Regions from separate parts of the Homo sapiens genome. Here region 2 is linked to region 1. Evidence: fine-mapped expression QTL. A gene starts in region 1. The other region holds a variant in brackets. All regions are shown on one strand. Distances are between the middles of the regions.

What was found. PIP is the estimated chance that this variant, and not a neighbour inherited with it, causes the effect.
Region 2: its variant is fine-mapped to the expression of MXRA5 in lung (TOPMed, PIP 0.94).

Annotation. Positions count from the first base shown.
Region 1 is chrX:3,341,169-3,353,659 of GRCh38, reverse strand. It overlaps MXRA5 (matrix remodeling associated 5), which reads left to right and starts at 7,008. Exons shown (of 7, transcript NM_015419.4): 1 at 7,008-7,145; 2 at 9,799-10,014. The coding sequence starts at 9,827.
Region 2 is chrX:3,496,251-3,508,741 of GRCh38, reverse strand. No RefSeq gene overlaps it. Among named protein-coding and RNA genes, the nearest start is that of SNORA48B, 30 kb to the left of the region's middle. The variant A/G (reference allele first, on the strand shown) is at 6,795.

The sequences.
Region 1 (12,491 bases):
CAGCCTGTTAGAAACCAGGTTGCACAGCAGGAGGTGAGCAGCAGGCCAGTGAGTGAGGCTTCATCTGTATTTACAGCTGCTTCCCATCCTGAGCTCTACCTCCTGTCAGATCAGCAGCAGCATTAGATTCTTACTGGAGCAGAAACCCTATTGTGAGCTGCACATACGAGGGATCTAGGCTGCAGGCTCCTTATGAGAATCTAATGCCTGATGATTTGTCACTGTCTCTCCCATCACCCCCAGATGGGACTGTCTAGCTGCACAGAACAAGCATGGGGCTCCCATAGATTCTACATCATGGTGAGTTGTAGAATTATTTCATTATATATTACAGTAGAATAATAATATAAATAAAGTGCACAATAAATGTAATGTGCTTGAATCATCCCAAAACCATATGTCCCACCCCCATCCTGCTCTACGGAAAAACTGTCTTCCATGAAATTGGTCCCTGGTGCCAAAAAGATCAGGGACCGCTGCCCTAGGAGATTTCTAGACCATGCCACTTGAGGGCAAGGTCTCCACCAGCCAGTAGTGCTCAGAACTAGTTTCAGTGACATTCTTTCCTTCTTCCTCACAAGCTTCTAGGGCAGCTTCCATGTGGAATCCCCTAGAAGCCATTTGGTTTTTATTCCAAGAGGCCGCTTGTCTGAAAGAAGACAAGTCAGCAAAAATGTAAGCCAAAACAGATGGGAGGAAAAAAAAGAGTCTTGACTCTTTAAATATAGAATTTTTAAAACTAGACTTTATTTTTAGAGCAGTCTGAGCTGCAAAATTGAGCAGAAGGCACAGAAATTTTTATATATCCCTTTCCTACACACACACACACCCCCTCTTCCATGATCAATAGCTCTCAGCAGAGTGAGACATTTGTTACAACAGATGAACTCACACGGAGACATCGAAGTCACCCAAAGTCCGTAGTTTTCATTAGGGTTCCCTCTTGATGTGAACTCCAGAATCGTGAGTATTCATCATTTATAGAACATCTTTCTGAAATGAATAGTTTCATGTTGAAAATGTGCCATTTTTATTTTGAAAAGTGAGATGGGCCGAGTGTGGTGGCTCATGCCTATAACCCCAGCACTTTGGGAGGGCGAGATGGATGGATGACCTGAGGTCAGGAATTTGAGATCAGCCTGGCCAACATGGTGAAACCCCATCTCTACTAAAAATACAAAAATTAGCAAGGCGTGGTGGTGCGCACCTGCAGTGCCAGCTACTCGGGAGTCTGAGGCAGGAGAATCGCTTGAACCCGGGAGGTGGAGGCTGCAGCGTGCCAGGATTCCATCACTGCACTCCAGCCTGGACAACAGAGTGAGACTTCATCCCCCCACAAAAAAGTGAGCTAGGTCTCGATTTCTGCGATTTCTGCTGAATGACCCATCCAGGATTGAGGTCTTTGAAGGGATTCATTAATAATTGCTGACATTCCCTTGCCTTTCCCTGTCTGCAATTCACTGGCCTGTGTGGTCTGGGTTGGGGAGGAAGGGGATAACCTTCCATGATCTCATCTTCTGCAGCTGTTTTCTACCGACTGAAATTTTAGGGATCCAGAGCGGAGAAGCCTGTGTCTGTGAGTTCCACCGTTCTAGGTGCCGCTGGTCCCGGTAAGACACAGTAGTAGATAAACAGCTTTCATTTTGCCGAGAAATCCCCATCAGCACATCTGCCCAAGCTGGGTCAGGCTAGTTCACTTCTCCACGATGTGTTTTCTCTGTAGGTTGATATGCACCATGCTAAGCAGAATTTTCTCCAGCCTAATCTGCAGAGATAACTCAACTGTGCTCAGGAGAGCTAGAGGGTTTCTCTGACGTGTTCTTTGTATTTATTTACTTATTTTCCACGCTGCTGTTCTATTTTAAAGTATGCTGTTGAGAAAATTTGGAAGCATTTTAGTACATGCAAGAGAACAGAGTATTCCTACCGACTGTGCTATGAGGATAAGAAGCAAAACAAAAATACCCCCTCATTTTCATTGAGGTGGCCAGTAGCCCGTATTTTCATTGAAGGTTTACCCTACACAGATGAGGGCAAGTTCCCATGGAAAATTCCTAAAAGTCTGTTTCTGCTCAAATAAAGATACAACCCCACTAGCTATTAGTCTGCCCCTGAGATTTCTGAGCTATGCAAGCCCATGAGTTTGAAGTAGAGATTTCCTGTGTCGATTTTTTTTTTTCCCTCCAGTCATCCAAGGGTATTCACTAGGTCAGCCCTTCTCGTGATTACAGAGTTTGGGAAGCAGTGGGGTTTGCAGTCATGTGACTAAGAAAGTTACTTTTACAACCCTTGTTAAGAAAATTACATAGTGATCCACAGAGTCCTTTAGAATATTAGACTTTCACATTGAAATCAGAATCGCCAGGAACTGCAGTTCATACACAAAACAGCCAGTGCACCTCCAGAGACTCTGCGCTGGGGTAAAACCTGGATAGGAAGATAAAAGACACAGCAATAAAGCTGAAAAAAATGACTGTAGATTCGCTGGATCCTATATATAAATATTAACTACAGATGTGGTGCAGGTAGTATGTTCAGTTCTCTCTATACAGCATTGCATTCTGTCTTTACGCCACCTCCAAGAGGTAAAATTACCCTTATTGTACCCTTGAGAAATCTGGTTTTAGGAAGGGAGAATAGTGTGTTCTAGGCCCTCTGGCCAAGAAATAGCGAGTAGTAGGAGGAGGTGGTTTGAGCTCTACTATCTGTCTGACTCGATCACCTATGGCTCTGCTGTTGGTTAAAGCCTTGCAAGAAAAGTGGATTTTAAAGATCTTATGACGGAGGCAGAGGGATGATGGCTCCCCAGTGGTAAGGGCCTCCTGGGTCTCCTGGGCTGCAAGTTTCCCTACCTCCACATTTCTAGAGGAAAGGGGGTCTCGATGGAGGATCAGGGTTGCGTGATGGGAAGTGAGCTAGCAAACCTGTTTGGATTTCCTTCTGAATGCTCTATTTTATATATATATATATATATATATATATATATATATTCACAGATGTCTTTTGTAGATCAAAGACAAAACAGGCAAATGTTGATAATAAGGACATGTTGTCAAAATGCTGGTTCAGGAAGAGAAATGCTGCTAACCAGAGGAACAGTGAAAAGCAGTGGCTGGTAAAAGTCACTGGTGCATCCTGCAACAAGCTGCAATCCTTCAGGTTCCATGGCATCTGGCGATTAGGAGGGCTCCGGCCTTTTGTTAATCACTGAGCTTTTGCTTGAAGTACATTCTGTAGCTACAAGGACTGACCTGCCCTTCATTTGATCATCCCTCCTCACCCTCCACATGGTGGAATTATTAGCAAGCAGATGAATTTAATTTAACCGACATGTACTCCAAACCTCTTGTATTTAAGGAACTCTCTTGGCACTTCAAGGGATTCAACAATTAATCAAACATGGTCCCTGCTCTGGGAACACATCACCAAGCAAGCAGGCAACATTAGCAGGACAAACATCAAAACAAAAAAGACTAAATGCAGCAAACTATGCATTTTATTTAAAAAAAGTACAGAATGACGAGATTCCATAATGCTTTATTTGTGGATTTATTGTACAAGTTACGCCCTGGGACTTTTCTAATCTAGGCATTTATTTTTATTAGTATGTGTGTTATTAAAAATAATTTATTGAGGTGAAATTCACATCGTAAAGTAAACCATGTTAAAGTAACAATGTCATGGCATTTCGTACATCCTCAATATTGTGCAACCATCACCTACATGTAGTTCCAAAACGTTTCTGTCACCCTAAGCTAAAACCCTGCTCCCATTCAGCGGTCTCTTTCCGCTGCTCACTCCCCTTCATCCCATGCATGAAATTTGCAAAGCAGAATTGAATTAGTTGACTTGATATTTTATTTACTTCACACTTGTAAGGAATTAAAGCCATTATGTTTGAGTTAACCATCTCATTTCCGTAAACCTGTGCCTTTAACTAGACTTCGATAAATCATTTTTGGGGTGCAGATTGTACAGGTAACACAAGTATTTAGAGGTATTGATAGATATTATCTATTAAATGTGCCAATAATAATCCCCCTGGATAAGGTAGTATAAACAGATTTCCTTACTGCAGAGAAATCCAGACTTTTTTAAATGTTTTTTTTTTTTGAGGCAGGGTCTTGCTCTGTCACTGTGGCTGGAGTGCAGTGGTGCGAACTTGGCTCACTGCAAACTCTGCCTCTCAGGCTCAAGCAATTCTCCCATGTCAGCCCCCAGTATGTAGCTGGAACTACAGGCATATGCCACTATGCCTGGCTAATTTTTTTTTTTTTTTTTTGTAGAGATAGGGTTTTGCCAGGTTGCCTAGGCTGGTCTCAAACTCCTGGACTCAAGCAATCCTCCCGCCTTGGCCTCCCAAAGTGCTGGGATTACAGGCGTGAGCCACTGCGCCTGGCCAAATCTAGACATTTCTTAATAGAATTCAACGTCAGTCATGCGCACATTCATTCATTCATTCATTCAATTGAACGCTTAGTGTATGCTAAGCTCTGTGCTATACTCCAGGTGTCAAGAAGCTATGACGGCATAAAAAGAAGGTGAGTGATTGTCCACAATGCAGGAAAAAAGCCCACTTTAGCAATGGGCATGGAGGTAAGGAAATACTATACAATGGAGATTGAGGAGAACTTTGTCAAAACAGTGGCGTGAACCAACAACAACAAAAATCAGGGATGTGCTACTTGTTCTTGACAAGCCAGATCTATCACCAAAAGGAAGATCCCAGGGACAGGCTGGGAAGCACAGGGCATGGCACAGGCCACCCATGGAAAACTTCAGCCTTGGGTTTGAGGATGATGGCATCCCTCTAAGTCTCAGTGATGGGCTGGAAGGGATGAATGAGAAGGAGTTGGTGGAGGAAGAAGTTGTCAAAATCTAAGACATATCCATGCAACCGCAGTGAGAGAGGTGGAGAGAAGAACACGTTGGGCCAAGAGATTCTTAGGCATCAGGATCTAAACTTGGCAACCAGTTGACTATGAGGAAGACATGAAGGAGAGGCAGAAGGCAAGGATGGCTTGAGTTTCTAGTTTAGCTGACGAGATGGGTGGCAACATCATTAACAAGGGTAAAGAGATGTTCAAGAGACAGTTGTTTTTTGTTTTGTTTTGTTTCGTGATTTAATCAATGGGTTTGGGGCATGCCCAGAAAGAGGCTACCTAAGGGCATTATTTGACTAATCCCTGGAACTATGTCAACACACACTGAAAACTAAAGCTAGAGAAGGAATGAATTCCCATTTATGAACCAGTATTTCCTGACTATCAACTCTGTGGAAGCCACCCTAGGCGCAGGAGGCAGGTGGTGAGGAATTCCTAGACGCTGTGTTTCTTAGGAGGAGCTAAGATGAACCACGCTTCATGCAGGGGAAGCAACTTGTTTCTTAGGCTTAGTCCTTCCTTCCTCCTGAAAGCCCCCTGACAGAGTGCTGGACGTAGGGCAGGACTTCTGAATCTAAAGAGCAGGCACTTCTCAATTATACTTTCTCCATGCATTGCCTTTTAAAAGCTGCATGCCTGCTGGGCTGGGTGGCTCACGCCTGTAATCCCAGCACTTTGGGAGTCCGAGGTGGATGGATCACTTGAGGCTAGGAATTCGAGTCCAGCCTGAGCAACATAGTGAGACCCTGTCCGCACCAAAAAAAAAAAATTAGCCCAGCGTGGTGGCGCAAGCCTCTAGTACCAGCTGCATGGGGGACGGAGGTGGAGAATCGCTTGCGCCTCGGAGGCAGAGGTTACAGTAAGCCGAGATCGCACCACTGGCACTCCAGCCTGGGCAACAGAGCGAGACTCTGTCTCAAATACATAGATACATATATACATACATACACACATACATAAATGCCGCACGCCATCAGCCTGCTTCAGGGGCATCTCAGCAGACAGGATTCGTTGTACAAGTACATGGTACCACTGGGCTTGTAAAAAAAATTTTTTTTATACTCACAGATGTCTTTTGTAGATCAAAGAACACAACAGGCAAACACTGACCCTAAGGACATGTCAAAATGCTGGTTCAGGGAGAGGAATACGGCTAACCAGAGGTATAGCGAAAAGCAGTCGCTGGTGCACCCTACAACAAGCTGGTGCAATGGTGCCTTTCCGGGCCCTACACACCTGTCTGAGCTCCATGTTTTTACCCCAGGTTGGCTCTGCTGACTGAAGATACTCGCCTGACCTCTCCCCACCATTCCAGGTCTGACTTATCCAGGAAGCCAGGCAGCCGCCGCCTCCTCTTCCTCTGCCTCCTGGAATAGGGACCTACCCTCTGCACCCTCTACTTTTTGCCTTGTCGCCAGGTCGCTCCCACCCTCCCACCGCCCCCTCCCCAGACAATACCATCAGACTCTCCGAACGTCCCAACCCTCGCCTTGCCCCTCGAATGCTCCCCAAGCCGGAGGGGAGCCGTTCCACCTTTCTGGCAGGAAGACTCTGGCAAGGGGAGGGAGGCGGGCGCCGGGGAGTCCTGGAGAGGCGGGAGGGCGTGGCGGCGGCTCTCACGTTGCAGCCCTGCCTGCAGCTAGTGGGATGCCGGCGGGGCCAGCCCGCTCCTGCTTGCACACGGTCTGGGAAGAGCTGCCGAGAAAACACCGTCTGGCCCGGAGAAGCGCAAACCCTGCTCCTTCTCTCTCTCCTGAAAGGAACGGAAACGTTCCCAGCGCTGCTTAGGCGCTCTCCAAGCGCGGACTCTACTGCGGCTCCCACCGCGCTCCCTGCATCTCGCCCTTCCCTCCTGGGGTCCTGGACTTCTCTCTGACAAAGAGCCCTCCTTCCCCGAGCCGCCTGCGGTTCTTGCAGCTGGAGTGGGCGAGGCATGCCCACCCGGGCCCAGGCGCAATGAAGACGCGAGAGGAAGGCTGAGCGCAGAGCGGCGCGGCCAGGGTCCCTTGGCTCGGGCCCGCGCCCCGTCTCCCCGGGGTGGGGCAGGGTGGGGGTGTGCCGAGGCGTGGACTTGGGGAAGCCTCGCAGCGCCGGGAATAAAAGGGCGCCGGCTTGCTGTGCCGCGCTGGGAAGCCGAGCTGCCTCACCCCCGGCCCCGGGAAGGGCATGGCCCCGGCAAACTCCCGGCCGTGACTCGCGCGCCCCGGCTCGGTGGATGCTCCCGGCGCACCGCTCCCGTGTGCGGCGGCTTCCCAAGGACAGGTGAGGACCCAGGGTGGCCAGGGCGCCCCAGGGCTGCCGTGTCTGCCTGCAGGGGGTGAAGGGATTTGAGACACCCAAGGGAAACACTGGGGGTAAAGGGCCTGCATGCAGGCAGATTGCACCGTTCCCCAGCACTGTTTGAAGTTGCTAAGAAATCAGGATACCTGAATTCCTGCAATTTTAAGTAGCTAAGGATCAGATAGGGAGGAGAGCCGGATCTTGAAGGAGGATGCACTGAATAGGTCTAATTAAGCCCAGACATCCCATGCCTCCTTTCCTCCCTCTCCCCAAAGCGCTCCCCATCCCTGGCTCTCTCTGGAGACCTTCAACCCCGCCATCCCGCGTTTCTAGGAAGCTGCCAACGGAATTCCTAAGTGAAGCCCACTCTGCTCTTGCAATCGGTGGGGGAAAGGACGCTTGAGGAGCCTCTTTCCAAGTTGCTCAGGCTGTGGCTACTTCAAGTCTCCTCTCCCTCCTCTCTTCCCCCTCTCCTTCCCCGCCTCTTTCCTCCTACTCTTACCCAGGCTTTCCCTGGAAAGGGGACAGCCCAACGCCTAGAGTGATCCGAGCCATGCAAAAAAACCGGGACAGTCATCACGCAGACAAAAGGGGTTTGGTGTCCGAGTCCCGGGCGGCGGGGACTCGCAGGGCCACCCCAGCCGCGTTCCGGGAAAGCTCGTAATTCATCCCGCAGCCAGCTCGACGCGACCCAGCGGACTCTGGAAGCCGGCCAGGGGCTCAGGGCTGCCCGCCCGGCCACTCCAGGTTGTCTGCCCAGGGCCAAGACGAAAGCAGACGGCCTCACGCCCCCACCCCTGCTTCCCGGCGGGGTTCGCAGACCGTCTCTGGCGGCCTAGCTGGCGCCAGGCCGCTTTCTCCGCGGCGGAGAGACCCGACCCCGAGTCCCCGGGATTAGGGTTGTCTGGGGGCGAGTTTCCTGGGTCTCCCGGGAGGTTGGTGCCGGGGTGGGAGGCCGGACAGGGAGTTGGGGCTGAAGAGTCCTATGGAACGCCCGGGCCAAGTCCGCCCGCAGGCACAGGACGCTGGGGACTGGCGCGGCTGCCCTTGGAACCAGCCCAGCGCCGAGGTCAGGCGCGCAGGCAGGGGCGGGGAAAGCCCGGGCTCTGGCGAGAGAGAAAACTCCGAGGACTTTTGCAGAGCTGCAGGAGCCGGTTTGTTCCAGCGCCCAGAGGCGGAGCCCGGACTTGCTTTTTTGCAAAACTACCTGTGCGCCATCAGTTCTTTATGGGCAGCTGAAGGGAGACGCGCCCCCGGGCTTAAGAGAATAACCTTTTCTAGGTCACTTAAAGGCAGGAAAAGCTACAGGTTTGGGATGTTCCTCTCTTATAGGAAGGATTTTAGAATTTTATTTTTATTTTTTGAGACGGAGTTTCGCTCTTGTTGCCCAGGCTGGGGTGCAATGGCTCGATCTCGGTTCACCGGAACCTCTGCCTCCCGGATTCAAGCGAATCTCCTGCCTCAGCCTCCCGAGCAGCTGAGATTATAGGCATGCGCCACCACGCCCAGCTAATTTTGTTTTGTTTGTTTGTTTGTTTGTATTTTTAGTAGAGACGGGGTTTTTCCATGTTGGTCAGGCTGGTCTCGAACTCCTGACCTCAGGTGATCCGCCCGCCTCGGCCTCCCAAAGTGTTGGATGACAGACGTGAGCCACCGAGTCCGGCCTGGGTTTTAGAATTTTAATCAGCAGTTCGCGCTCGTTCAGAACCCGGGCGAATGGGCAGGCGCGTGTTTGTTGTGTATCCCTATTTACTTTCCATGTGTGTCACTATTTTTAAGTGAACGCCATTCAAGAGATGACAAAAATGTTAGATGACATAGGCATTGCCAGGACAAGAAGAAAATGATCACCGCCATTCTAAATGAAGTAGCTGATGCAATCTAGCTTTACCCGAGCTTTTCCATTTTTTAGTGACTCCATTTTTTTCTGTTTGCCTGAATATATTTCATAAGCAGTCCCTTCCTGTTTATTGAATGATCAGAGGTTCCCCCAAACTTCCTCCCCGATTAACAGCAACTCTATATCATCAAAAAAACTCTCTGGCTTTTCCAAGACAAAAACATAAGGATAGTAAATAAACCCAGAAATAACAGGATGAATATCCTTCTAGCAAATACCTCTTTAAGCTCTTCAAGAAGCTAGAATTAAAGGTTTGAAAAATATCATTAAAGGAAAGAATACGAATAAACACTTCTTGGGAAGTTTTAAATTCAAATATATGCAATATATAATGGCTCAGTCTTGTTGGAGGCAGAAACACAATATTTTATTATTTTTTAATTATGGATACATAAATATAAACCTCTTTCTTCTCTCTCTCTCTCTCTCTCTCTCTCTCGTCTCTCTCTGTTTCATAGCCGCAATTACAGAGTGCAAGATAGATTTCCAAATCATAGTATCGAAGCCAAGAATCAAGACTATATTCTATAGTCATGATTAAAGTGAATGGTGAAAAGTTTAGAAAAAAAACCATGTTTCATCTTTCTCAATTCCCATGGTTTAAGCGTCACTACAACACATCGTGTGAAGTCCTGGGAAGCTTGAAACCCTGATGCACAATTCAAATTTAAAAATTGCCCACAGTTCGTCGGTGCTACCTGTGAATAAGCTCATCTCTTCGTTGTTCTACCTCAGGTATCCGAGAATCAGGCACCCCGACAAGATGCCCAAGCGCGCGCACTGGGGGGCCCTCTCCGTGGTGCTGATCCTGCTTTGGGGCCATCCGCGAGTGGCGCTGGCCTGCCCGCATCCTTGTGCCTGCTACGTCCCCAGCGAGGTCCACTGCACGTTCCGATCCCTGGCTTCCGTGCCCGCTGGCATTGCTAAACACGTGGAAAGAATCAATTTGGGGTTTGTACCACTTTCTTCCCGAACCTTCCCACTGTCAGTGCGTGCGTCTTGATCTGGTTTTGCGTGTGTGTATGTGCATTTACTTAACTTCATATGTGCATTTCCTCTGTGTAGCTCTGTCGAGAATTATGGAGCTGCAGATGGGCAGAATAGAGAGAAAAAGTTTTAGTTATGCTAAACGCAGCTTTTTCGATGATTATCTCAATATATCCATCAGCTGCCACTGCTGTAAGGTCTATTAACGAGCAGCATGAACAACTTTAGAGTTTGTTGAGAAATTCCCTTGATAGCATTTCTTTAATACATTGTTGAGGTGAATGCATGAGACACACACTTAAACATATGAAGATGATTTAAGTAGACTTCAGCAACGATTTAAGAATAATAAAAATAAGCAGAACATCTGTGCCATTTTATAAGTCATGTAGATGATAGAATTGCGACTTTGAGGCAATAAAAGAGTTCCTGCAGATTTTGCCTGTTAAAAATATCAACGTCTTTTTAAAAACCTATTTTGATGTGGCTTGCCAGACAGACTTTTAATATACTGGTTTCATTTTATACACACGAGGGTTGTGTGGACCGAAGTGTTAGTTGCTATGAACTACAGGTGCTCAACTGCAATTTTAATAGTCAACAATCATTTGGAGTTCGTCAACAAAATATAATAGCTACTTTTTAGCATCCATCCCCAGAACAACTGATTAAATTAGTGTTTGTGAAATATCCACCATGGAGATGTTTTAGTAAAAATAAAATGGCCAGATTTGAGCCAATGCAAAATAACTGTAAATGTACCTGGACATCTTATAGAACAAAGTTAAAAGAAAAAACTCTCCTCCATTGACAGTGGTAGAAGAAGAGAATGAAACATTGAGATAATAAGATGGAAATTTCTCTATCGACAGTGGTAGAGTCAGGGAATGAAGTGTTGAGGGAGTAAGATGGAAACTTCCCTGTTGACAGTGGTAGAATAAGAGAATGAAACGTTGAGGGAATAAGATGATAATTTCCCTAACCCATGGCAACAGACCATTAAATAGGTTTCTCAATGAAATGCTGTTAGACTTTATGAGTTGACCATCTGAACATCCAACCACAACAATGATAGCTCATTGGGGAAAACAGCTTGGCGTTGGCAGAGGAGGGAATAGTAACACATAAGCCAGCTTCCCTTTTTACAATCTTGTAATTTATCGGACACATTTCTTGTGTAATGGAAGTAAGAAAAAGGGAAGAGGTGCTAAAGCCCATTAGTTTTGTTTATTTATTTATTTACTTAACTTTAAGTTCCAAGATACATGTGCAGAGTGTACAAGTTTGTTACATAGGTATATGTGTGCCCTGGTGGTTTGCTGCACCTATTGACCTATCCTCTATGTTCCCTCCCCTCAACCCCCACCCCCCAGCAGGCCCTGGTGTGCGTTGTTCCCCTCCCTGTGCCCATGTGTTCTCAATGTTCAACTCCCATTTATGAGTGAGAACATGCAGCGTTTGGTTTTCTCTTTCCCTTGTTAGTTCGCTGAGGATGATGGCTTCCAGCTTCATCTATATCTCTGGAAAGGACACGATTTCCTTCCTTTTTATGGCTGCATAGTATTCCATGGTGTATATGTACCACATTTTCTTGGGCATATGGGTTGGTTCCATGTCTGCTAAAGCCCATTTGAATCCTGGGGGAAGGTGCGTGTGATATTTGCAGAACAGAAAGTGGGGCTTTAACTGTAACTTCTTTTTCCTCCACCCTTGGTGTGCAAAATGGCTCTGTCTAGGAATTGTTTTTTATACATGAACCATTTTAACACATGGTCTAACTTGCTGGGATTAGCCACCTCATCTCTCAAACCCAGCACCTTGGCAGGTCCCATGCTGGGGGTACCATCAGCCAGGCCTTGGTGGAGCCCTCTAAAAAGCTTGGGGTTGATGCAGAATGTATATATTTTATATATATTATCTTTATAATATATATAATATATAATGTAAATATACATATTATATAATATATAATATATGTATACTATATTATATATTATATATATTATATATAATAATAATATATATTATATATATTATATATAATAATAATATATATTATATATATTATATATAATAATAATATATATTATATATATTATATATAATAATAATATATATTACATATATTATATATAATAATAATATATATTACATATATTATATATAATAATAATATATATTACATATATTATATATAATAATAATATATATTATATATATTATATATAATAATAATATATATTATATATACATAATATATAGTAATAATATATATAATGTAAATATACATGTTATATATAATATAATATGTATATTATATATATTAATTATATATTATATATAATTCTATTATATATTATATATATAATTATATAATTATATACATTATATATATTATTATATATTATATATAATAATTATATATTATATATATTATGTAT
Region 2 (12,491 bases), 160 kb before region 1:
ACAGGAATGGAAAAACAAATACTGCATATTCGTCCTGATAAGTGGGAGCTAAATGATGAGAACACATGGACACATAGAGGGGACCAACAGTGATATGGTTTGGCTGTGTCCCCACCCAAATCTCATCTTGAATTGTAGCTCCCATAATTCCCATGTGTTGTGGGAGGAACCTGGTGGGAGGTAATTGAATCATGGGGGCAATTTCCCCCATACTGTTCTCCTGGTAGTGAATAAGTCTCATGAGATCTGATGGTTTTATAAATGGTTTCCCCTCTCACTTGGCTCTCATTCTCTCTTGTCTGCCGCCATGTAAGATGTGGCTTTCACCTTCTGCCATGATTGTGAGGCCTCCCCAGCCATGTGGAACTGTGAGTCCATGAAACCTCTTTTTCTTTATAAATTACCCAGTCTCGGGTATGTCTTTATCAGCAGTGTGAAAACGGACTAATACAAACAGACACTGGGGCCTGGAAGGTAGAGGATGAGGACGAGGGGGAGGATCAGGACAAATAACTAATGGGTACTAGGCTTAATAGCAGGGTGACAAAATAATCTGTACAACAAACCCCTGTGACACAAGTTTACCCAAATAACAAACCTGCACATGCACCCCTGAACTTAAAATTAAGCAAGGAAAAAAAAAAGGAAATAAGGACTTGCCAGATATAACGAATTTGCAGTAAGTTGACGTCTTACTGGACTAGGGTGGACCATAAATCCAATGATAGGTGTCCTTATAAGAAGAGTAGAAAAGACAGACACACAGAGAGGGGAAGTTCTTGGAACTGCAGAGGCAGACACTGGAGGATGCCACCCCAAGCAAACAAACACCAGGGATTGCCAACAAACATGCAAACTGAGAAGGAGGCAAAGGATTTTTCCCTTGAGCTTTGAGAGACAGCATGGTTCCACTTTCACCTCGCTTTCTGACTTGCATCCCCTCAAACTGAAAGGGAATAAATTTGTTGTTGCAAGCCACCTGCTTTGCCGTAATGTGTTATGGTGGCACAGGAAACTCCTAAAGCTCCTTTCGCAGAAATTCTCTGCCTGCACTCCCTACCTCCATGGATCTTTGCCAAATATAACATTTTCTTTAGTCCTGACACACAAGAGAATATCATCTGTCCACATTCATCCTGGTCATTCATGAGCTGTGATAGTTTTGCACAGGCTCTTTTCCTTTGCGTGGGAGACCTTGCCTCTCTCTCTCTTTTTCTCTCCCTCTCTCCCTCCTACACCCCTGCCCCTACTTCTGGCAAACAATGACCCATTGTTTGAGATCTTGGTTAAAGGCTCACTCTCTGGGGGCACCTTTCCTAAGAGTTACCCAGCCCTTACTCTGTACTTCATGACACCTCCTGTGACACCCATGGGTGAATTGTTGGTTTCTGAGGCTGTTTCTCTCGAGCCCAGGAACTACATCTTCAGGATGTGTATCCCTAGTAATAATCACAGTACATATCATATAGTACATTTTCTATCCCTTGTATATGGGGATATAATCCTAGTACCTGTCATATAGTAGATTTTATATGCCTAGTATGTAGGGCTATAATCCTAGTGCCCATCACGTAGTAGATTTTATATGCCTGGCATATAGGGATATAATCCCAGTACCTGTCATACAGTGGATTTTCCATCCCTACCATATAGGGATATAATTCTAGTACCCGTGACACAGTCGATTTTCTATCCCCAGTATATAGGGAGATAATGCCAGTACCCATCACATAGTCAATTTTATGTCCCCAGTATATAGGCATATTATCCCAATCCCTGTCATAGAGTCGATTTTCTATCCCCACCATATAAGGATAGAATCCCAGTACCCGTCACACAGTCGATTTTACATCTCTCGCACATAGGGATATAATCACAGTACCTGTAACATAGTAGATATTATATCCCTAGTATTTAGGGATAGAATCCCAGTACCCATTGCATAGTCGATTTTCTATCCCTAGTAGATGGGGATATAATCACAGTATCCATCACATAGTAGATACTATATCCTTGGCATGTAGGGATAGAATCCTAGTACCTGTCATATAGTAGATTTTCTATTCCTAGCATATAGGGATATAATCTCAGTACCCATCCCAGAGTCGATTTGATATCCCCAATGTATAGGGATATTATTCCAGTACCCATCACAGAGTCGATTTTAGATCCCTAGTATACAGGAATATAATCCCGGTACCTGTCATATAGTAGATATCATATCCCTAGTATATAGGGATATAATTTTAGCATCCATTATATAGTAGATATTATGTCCCTAATATACAGGATATAATCATGGTACCTGTGATATAGTAGATGTTTCATATAGACTCATTTTTCAAAAGGAGGGGATTTTCAAAAATTAATTTTTTAATTGATAAATAAAAATGGTGTATATTTATGAGGCACAACTTTTTTTTTTTTTTTTTTTTTTTTGCTTTTATTTGAGACAGGGTCTCTCTCTGTCACCCAGGCTGGAGTGCAGTGGTGTCGTCATAGCTCACTGCAGCCTTGACCTTCTGGGCTCAAGCAATCCTCCTGCCCCAGCCTTCCCAGTAGCTGGGACTACAGTCCTGCGCCACCATGCCTGGTTAATTTTTTAAATTTATTGTAAAGATGGGGGTCTCACTATATTGCCCAGGCTGGTCTGAACTTCTGGCCTCAAGTAATCCTCCAGCCTGGGACTCCTAAATGCTGAGATTAGAGGTGTGAGCCACCGCATGAACTCAGTAACGTCATGATGCTTTGATATGTGTTTCCACTGAAAAATGGCCAAATGACACTAGTTAACATAAACATCACCTCACCAACTTCTCATTTTTTGGTGGAGAGAACGTTTAAAATCTACTCTTTTAGCAATTTTTAAGTATGTGATCCATTGTTGTTTATTTTAGTCATCATGTGGTATAATAGAACCCCTGAACTTATCCTTCCTCTCATATAGACTTATTTAATAAGGAAATGTACTCCAGGTGTATTTAATAGAGAAATACACCCCAGAACCACTTTTGACCAAAGAATTATCAATATATTCACTGTATGGTTTTAAACTTTGTAGAATATCTCCAGATAAAATCTATCTTTGTATTCATTCTTGAATCAGATATAGGAAAACACCATACACAATACGAAGATAGTTGGCTAAATAAATAAATAAGGCAACACAGCGAGACCTCATCTCTACCAAAAAATACAAAAATGAGCTGGGTGTGGTGGTGCACATCTGCAGTCCCAGCTACTCAGGAGGCTGAGGTGAGAGGATTGCTTGAGCCCGGGAAGTCGAGGCTGCAGTAAGCCATGATCACACCACTGCATTCCAACCTAAGCTATGGAGCGAGACTTGACCTAAAAACAAACAAACAAAAATCAATGATCTGAAAAGATCTGTGTTTTTTCAGGCTCCAGGCAGATTAGACCTATCTTCTGACCTTTTTTTTTCCCTAGGAAGATAAGGCAAGGAAATTTAAAAAAAAAAAATTCAAGGATACTTACAAATGGCAAAGGAAGGATACAGAATAAATGAGTTTTGTCCAATGTGTGTCTTTCCCCATCAACAGTAAAATAAATCAGTGTTATGTGAAAAACCCAATCTTACCCAATCTACTCTATGGGGCCAAACTTGAAATTCCAAAATTCTGACCTCATTTGTAGTTCTGAACATACGGGAAACTCTTCACGCAGAATCTACCAGGGACAAAGTAAAAACACACAAAAAATCATGATGTGATTCACTCAAAAATTGACAATTACCGGTGTTGGCCCCCTTGATCTGTATAAGCAACATGACAGCCCATTTTGCAACATAAATTCTCACCATGCACCAACCTACAAGAGAAAATACTACATCCTGTTAGAAGTACCCCCCGCCTACCCCCTGCTCCCTGGCCCAAGATGGAGTCTTGCTCTTTGGCTCAGGCTGGAGTGCTGTGGTGTGATCTCGGCTCACTGCAACCTCCACCTCCCGGGTTCAAGCAATTCTCCTGCCTCAGCCTCCTGAGTAGCTGGGATTACAGGCACCCACACAATGCCCAACTAATTTTTGTACTTTTAGTAGAGACTGGGTTTCAACGTGTTGGCCAGGCTGGTTTTGAACTGGCTGGTCTTGAACTCCTGACCCTGTGATCCGCCTGCCTCGGCCTCCCAACGTGTTGGGATTACAGGTGTGAGCCACTGCAACTGGCCCTGTTAGAAGTTTTATAGAAAGTGGACTGCTGGTGGTGTTTGGTCTGCATGTTGTTCAATTAGGTACCATTGGATAAAGGAGCAGAAAATCAAAGCAACTATTAATAAGAGTTGTAATAATAATATACTGGATTCTTCTTTTTGAAAATGAGACTGGGTCTCCGTCTATCACCCAGGCTGGAGTGCAGTGAACTCTTGCTTCTCCTTGCCTTCTGCCATGATTCTGAGGCCTCCCCAGCCATGTGGAACTATAAGTCCCTTAAACCTCTTTCTTTTGTAAATTGCCCAGTCTTGGGTATGTCTTTATCAGCAGCATGAAAACGAACTAATATACTTTATTTTAATCTTTCTCTCTTTATATACATATCTCCTGTTGGTTCTGTTTCTCCAGAGAACCCTGACTAATACATAGCCCACACAAGGCAAAACAAGCAATGACACCACATAGTACAACAAAACACTTGAAACCGCACCTCGAGATCACCAAGAGAGCAAACCATCCCAGACACCTCATTGGGTGGTTCTGTGTAGATACCACTCAAACAAGGCAAAACATGCCACGGCACAACACAACACAATGCCCAGAACCAACCTGGTTCCAGGACAGAGTTTTTATTTTTTATTTTTTATATTTCCATAGATTTTTGGGGAACAGGTGGTGTTTGGTTACATGAGCAAGTTCTTTAGTGGTGATTTGTGAGATTTTGATGCACCCATCACCCAAGCAGTGTCCACTGCACCCTATTTGTAGTCTTTTATCCCTCGCTCCCCTTCCAGCCTTCCTCCCAAGTCCCCAAAGTCCATTGTGTCACTCTTATGCCTTCGAATCCTCATAGCTTAGCTCCCGCTTATGTGTGAGAATACGACGATTGGTTTTCCATTCCCGAATTACTTCACTTAGAATAATACGACGTTTGGTTAAACACATACGATGTTTGGTTTTCCATTCCTGAGTTACTTCATTTAGAATAATAGTCTCCAATCTCATCCAGGCCGCTGCAAATGCCGTTAATTCATTCCTTTTTATGGCTGAGTAGTATTTCACTGTATATATATGCCAGGGTTTCTTCATCCACTCGTTGATTGATGGGCATTTGGGTTGGTTCCACGATTTTGCAATTGTGAGTTGTGCTGCTATAAACATGCGTGTGCAAGCATCTTTTTCAAATAATGATTTTCTTTTCCTCTGGGTAGATACCCAGTAGTGGGATTGCTGGATCAAATCGTAGTTCTACTTTTAGCTCTTTAAGGAATCTCCACACTGTTTTCCATAGTGGCGGTACTAGTTTACATCCCACCAGCAGTTTAGAAGTGTTCCTGTTCACCACATCTACTGTTTTTTGAGTTTTTGATTATGGCCATTCTTGCAGGAGTAAGGTGGTATTGCATTGTGGTTTTGATTTGCATTTCCCTGGTCATTAGTGATATTGAGCATTTTTTCATATGTTTGTTGGCCATATGTATATCTTCTTTTGAGAATTGTCTATTCATGTCCTTAGCCCACTTTTTGATGGGATTGTTTGTTTTGTTCTTTCTGATTTGTTTGAGTTCGTTGTAGATTCTGGATATTAGTCCTTTGTTAGATGTATAGATTGGGAAGGTTTTCTCCCACCCTGTGGGTTGTCTGTTTACCTTGCTGACTGTTCCTTTTGCCAGGCAAAAGCGCTTTAGTTTAATTAAGTCCCACATATTTATCTTTGTCTTTATTGCATTTGCTTTTGGGTTCTTGATCATGACATCCTTGCCTAAGCCAATGTCAAGAAGGGTTTTTCCAATGTTATCTTCTAGAATTTTTATAGTTTTAGGTCTTAGATTTAATCCCTTGATCCATCTTGAGCTGATTTTTGTATAAGATGAGAGATGAGGATCCAGTTTCATTCTCCTGCATGTGGCTAGCCAATTATCCCAGCACCCTTTGTTGAAAAGGGTGAGGACAAAGTTAATTCACATGATCTCGGTGACAGAGTTGAACCATTTCTGTAATATTTAGCCCACTGCAAAACTGGAGGGCGCCATGTCTGAACATGTCTTTGATTTCCCGCATCTGAGCAAAGCCCACTGCACACGTGTATGAGATTTTTCTGGCAGTCCCTTTTTGTACAATATTCTAAATACCTGTGGTTTCTTAACTAGGAGGTCAAGACAAATGACTTTTGTTAAGAAGGGAGTCGAAACCTCAGACGCTGAGCTGAGTTTTTCAGGCTATGACATCAGGTCTCGGACTGACAGCAGCATCATGAGACTGGCGGAGGCTGATAATCCATGCAACTAAAAAAAATTCCTTAACGTTTTATTTTTTCCCCCTGAGATTTTTTTTTTGCATTCGTCACAGCTCAAACAACTCAACAGGTGCTCATTTTGGAAATGAGCAGGGAAGCAGTCGCTTTTCGCCAGGTGAGGATCTCTGTGGCGAATGCAACTCCCCGGAGGCACAGCTCTGCCGAGGCATTTCTGAGAACCCTGGACATGTTTTCCCGCTTGTTCTGGGAGTCTCATTGGTTTGGTCATGCAGCAAGCTCTGTGGGCGGTGGTGCAGGCTGTCTGCATTCTTCACGACAGCCGCCTGGGTTTTGTTGCTATTGCCTAGCAATCCGACAGGACAGCTGCAC[A/G]CTTCATTAATTTGCTTCATCCATCCATATGCCTCCATCTCGCACATTTATGATTCAGAAATGAAAGCAAGTGTGACCTTCCTGCGATGTTTTTCCTTAGGCGTGGTTGTCTTGCGGCCCCTGACATCCTCATGGATTTGCCCTGCTACTTTCTACCCGGCTGTCTGTTCCCAAGGTGTTGCACCCTGATGACAAACCTGACCCAACGAGGCAGACTTCATGCAAAGTCTCCATGAAATTCCAGTCTCCCGGCAGCTCTATGCCACCCAGAACCATGGGAGAGGCCCAGCTTGTTCCCAGCACTTCCTTCTGCTGGATCCTCATGCTGTTTCCTTGCTCCACTCGGAATTTTCAAAGATGCCTAAGTAGATAATGATGTCTGGAAAATGCTGTTTCTCATCCATCCATATTGATCGAGTGGTTTTCAATTTGGGAAATATAAACAACCTCCCTACTCACCCCTCATCCTATTCTTTTCTGAACTCAGGAGAATGATTTTTCCTTTTCTTTTTTTTGAGACAGAGTCTCACTCTATCACCCAGACTGGAGTGCAGTGGCACGATCTCAGCTCACTGCAGCCTCTGTCTTCTGGGTTCAAGTGATTCTCTTGCCTCAGCCTCTCTAGTAGCTGGGATTACAGGTATGCACTGCCACGCCTAGCTAATTTTTGTATTTTTAGTAGAGATGGGGTTTCGCCATGTTGACCAGGCTGGTCTCGAGCTCCTGACCTCAGGTGATCCACCCGCCTCAGCCTCCCAAAGTGCTGGGATTACAGGCATAAGCTACCGTGTCAAGCCAAGAATAATTTTTTTCAACAAAATTTTATTACCTTTTATTTTTTAAAAATAGAATTTATATTTTAGAGGAGTTTTAGGTTTACAGCAAAATTGAGAGTATGGTACAGAGATTTCGCATATAGTCCCTGCTCCCCTACCTCAACCTCCCCCATTATCAATATCCCCACCAGAGTGGTGCATTTGTTGTAATGAACCAACATGGACACATCATTATTGATATGGTTTGTCTCTGTGTCCACACCCAAATCTCATGTTGAATTATAATCCCCAGTGTTGGGGGAGGGACCTGATGGGAGGTGATTGGATCATGGGGGTGGATTTTCCCCTTGCTGTTCTCGTAGTAGTGAGTGAGTTCTCATGAGATCTGGTTGTTTGAAAAATGTATACCTCCTCCTCACTACAGTCTCTCTCTCCTGCTCCTTTATATGAAGATGTGCCTGCGTCCCCATTCGCCTTCTGCTCTGCCATGATTGTAAGTTTCCTGAGGCCTCCCCAGCCATGCTTCCTAAACAGCCTGCAGAACTGTGAGTCAATTAAACCTCTTTCCTCTGTAAATTAGCCATCTCTGGTATGTCTTTATAGCAGCATGAGAACAAACTGATACAATTATCACCAGAGTTCATAGTTCACATAGGGCTCACCCTTGGTGTTGTACATTCTAAGGGTTTGGACAAACGTATAATGGCATGGATCCAGCATCCTAGTACCACACAGAGTAGTTTCACTCCCCTAAAAATCCTCTGCATTCTCTCTCCCACTCTCAAGACCTGCCAATCACTGATTTTCTTTTTCACCGTCTCCATAGTTTTGTCTTCTCCAGAATGTCATAGAGTTGGAATCATACGGCATGCAGCCTTTCAGATACCCTTTCAGATGCATGGTACCCTTCACTTAGTACCATGCATCTAAAATTTCTCCATGACTTTTCATGACTTGATAGCTCATTTCATTTTAGTGTTTGTGAAAGAGAAAGAAATCTTGGGGCCCCCAAATCACTAAGCTAACGGTAAAATTCAAGCTGGGAACTGCTTAGGGCCAACCTGCCTCCTATTCTATCCAAAGTGCCCCCTCCGCTTACTGAGATAAATGCATATCTGATTGCCTCCTTTGGAGAAGCTATCAGAAACTCACAAGAATACAACCATTTGTCTCTTAACTACCTATGACTTGGAAGCCTCCTCACCCGCTTGGAGTCTTCCCACCTTTGCTTCGAGTTGTCCCATGTTTCTGGACTGAACCAATGTGCGTCTTACGCATATTGATTGATGTCTCATATCTCCCTAAAATGTAGAAAACCAAGCTATGTCACGACCACTTTGTGCACATGTTGTCAGGACCTCCTGAGCCTGTGTCACGGGGATCTGTCCTCAACCTTAGCAAAATAAACTTTCTAAATTAACTGAGACCTCTCTCAAATTTTCGAGGTTCACATGCTGAATAATATTCTATGATCAGGTTGTATCATCCTTTATTTATCCATTCACTGCCTGAAGCACATCTTTGTAACCTCCAAGTTTTATCCACCCCCATAATCTAATCACCCCCCACCAGGTCCCTCCCCAACATTGGGGATTACAATTCAACATGAGGTTTGGGCAGAGACACAGAGACAAACCATATCAATAATGATGTGTCTATGTAGGTTCCTTAGAACAAACGTACCTCTCCGGTGGGGATATTGATAATGGGGGAAGTTGGGGTAAGGGAGCAGGGACTATATGAGAAATCTCTGTACCTTTTTCTCAATTTTTCTGTAAACCCAAAACTCCTCTAAAATATAAACACTATTTTCTTAAATAAAGGGAAATACAATTTTGTTGAAATAGTTTTGATAATTGCGACTAAAGCTGCCATATAAACATTTGTGTGCACAGGTTTGTGTGGACATACATTTTCAACTCCTTTGGTACCACATACTAAGGAGTGAGATTGCTGGATCGATTGGTGATAGTGTGTATGCATTTAAGCTTCCTTTTCCATGTACTTTTAAGATTATAGTATCCCCTGAGTTTCAGAGGACAAGGAAAAGAGCAAGTTGTGCATGCGCCCATCTATAGAAATGCTTTTAAACATTTTAGGATCTACCACGTTCTTATTTTGCTTTCCCTGAAGTCACCTCCCCCAGCTATCATCAACCAAAAATCACTTTGCTCTTGTACTTAAATTTTTTAGTTTTTATTTTAGGAGACGGGGTTTTGCTCTGTTGCCCAGGCAGGGGTGCAGTGGCACCATGATAGCTCACTTCAGCCTTGACCTCCCTGGGCTCAAGTGATCCTCCCACCTCAGCCTCCTGAGTAGCTGGGATTATGGGTGTGTTGCAGCACGCTGACTATTTTATTTTATTTTGTTTATTTTAGAGATGGGGTTCTCACTGTGTTGTGAGGCTGGTGTTGAACTCCTGTCTTAAATCAATCCTCTCTCATTAGCCTCCCAAAGCACTGGGATTATAGCTGTGGGCCACCATGCCCAGCTCTTCGTACACTTACATTTCTAAAGACTCATATGTTCCAAATGTGGCAGCTAGGCAGACATGCATACGTGCAAATATTTATATGCCGTCATCACCCACAACGTCTCACCTCACTCCACGATTATTTCTCAATGTCTAGCCTCTTCATAAAATATACAGGAATGGGGACTCACCCAAGTCACTGTTTTGGAAATGTTCTGTAAGTGTTAGAAAGCATGCCTTGCCAGTACCCATTCTTCCAGGCTCAGCTCACAAAATCCCCTCATCTCTTCCAAGAACCCGCCCTGGACTCACCCTACTGGCAGATGCTGCTTTTCTGTGTTCCCACGGTCTGCTGGCTCAAACCTGACATATGCCACCTCCATTACAAAACACAACAATGTCTACGAACCATGGAACCATTTGGGGAAGGAATTCTTGGGAGTCATTCTAAGTGTCCTGGGGTCTGAGAAAATGGCGTATCGACCAACGTCCAACACTCTCAGATAATGGCAGAATCCTAACGGTAACTTGGTCACAGGGTGTGCAAATTGGACTGTAAACAGCTTCAGCCATCTGATGATACCTAATATCTTCCTTGGCTCCTTGACCTGGGGATGATGGAATGCCACTTGCTTTCTGAGAACAAATGGGCTCAAATGGCAACAAGAGAACAACCAGGCAATATGTGAAAGATTTTCACAGTGGTTGACAAAGAGAAAAAAAGCAAGATGAGGCCAGGGCCAATGGTCATGCCTGTAATCCCAGCACTTTGGGAGGCCAAGGCAGGAGAATCACTTGAAGCGGGGGTTCGAGACCAGCCTGGGCAACACAGCAAGACCCTGTTTCTAAAAAAATACAAAAATTGGCTGGGCATGGTGGTGTGTGCCTGTAGTCCCAGCTAGTCAGGAGGCTGAGGTGGGAGGATTGCTTGAGCCCAGGAGGTTGAGGCTGCAGTGGGCTATGATTTCACCACTGAACTGCAGCTTGGGTGACAGAGTGAGACCCTGTCTCTAAGAAAAAGGCAAGATGCAAATGGTGGTTCATGTAACGCTCTCAAACCTGAACATGCTCTCGAATGAGTCTGATGCAGTAAGTCCTGAGCAGGACCTGGGAAATTCCATTTCTAGCTGCACTCCAGGTGAAGTGTTGCTGCTTGACCTTTTCAATGGCAAGTTCCTGTAGATCTGGGGTGTTGTCCAACATCATACCCCTAGACGCCTGTGGATAATTACATTCAAATTTAAAGGATTTAAAATAAAATAGGAATAAGAATTCACTTCCATCTGTACACCTAGTATGTACCCACAAATATTAAAATTAAAAATTAAATAATAGAATCACTTCCATGGTCTCACTAGCTGCATTTCAGTGCTCAGTAGTCCCAAATGGCTAGAGGCTACCACCTTGGCAGCCCAGGATAGAACATTTCCATTATTACAGAAAATTATACGAGAATTTGCTAATGTAGAGTTCTGGCTATCACCCAGGAACATTCAATGACAAGGAAGTAAAAGTAATTTGGAATTGCTCTTTTTTGCTTATAAGGTTCTGATCCATGCAAATTTCTGTGCAACTGGTATAACACTCTTCACAGTCAGGGCACAAATATACATACTTCCTTCATTATGTGCAGCTCTGTGGATATTCTTAAAAGCCCTGAAATAAAAGAAACCTTAAATTAAACAATTCCTAAAATTGCCATGTTTCTGAACACATTTGTGCCTGTATGCCCATATTCTATACGCATGATAACTATAAAAGTCTACAAATATTGATGTATACATACTCACATATTTTCATCTTTTCTCACAATTATTTTTACAGTCTTTCAATGAGCAAAGGTCAAAAAGTGTAGGGCTTTCTAACAGAGGAACTATGAGAGCTGAGTAACCCAGTGACAATTTGGCCAATCACACTAGAAAATCAGAAATGCATGTTGCCACCAGAGAACGCCGTCATTTTAGATGCGCAAGGTTGATCCCATTCAGAATCCCGGAGTAATGCTCACCAATAGAAAAAAGGCAGCACAGGATTTTATTGGCTTAACACAATCATAGTTTATTTTTCCTACTTTACTAGCCCTTTGCAAGTGTTCTTGCTTGGGTAGATTTTCTCCAAGTGGTGAGTGAGAGACTCAGGTTTATTGCCAAATTGGTACTCTGCCATCTCCAACACCTGCCTTGCAAGGTATCCCTGTTTTTGTTTGTTGATTTTTTTGGCCACTGTTTCAGTTTTATCAACTCCAAGGAAAAAGCTCATGGAAGCTCACCCGTGGGAGATTTCCATGGGACACACGCTTATACTCACATTTCCTTGGCCAGAACTCAACCAAACACACACTGAATTCCAGGAGCAGATGGAAAATGTGGTCAGGCTCTAAAGAGGGAAAAACTGGTTTGGTGTCAGCGAGCAGCATGTAATTATGGCTAAATCTGTCTGCTAATGTAC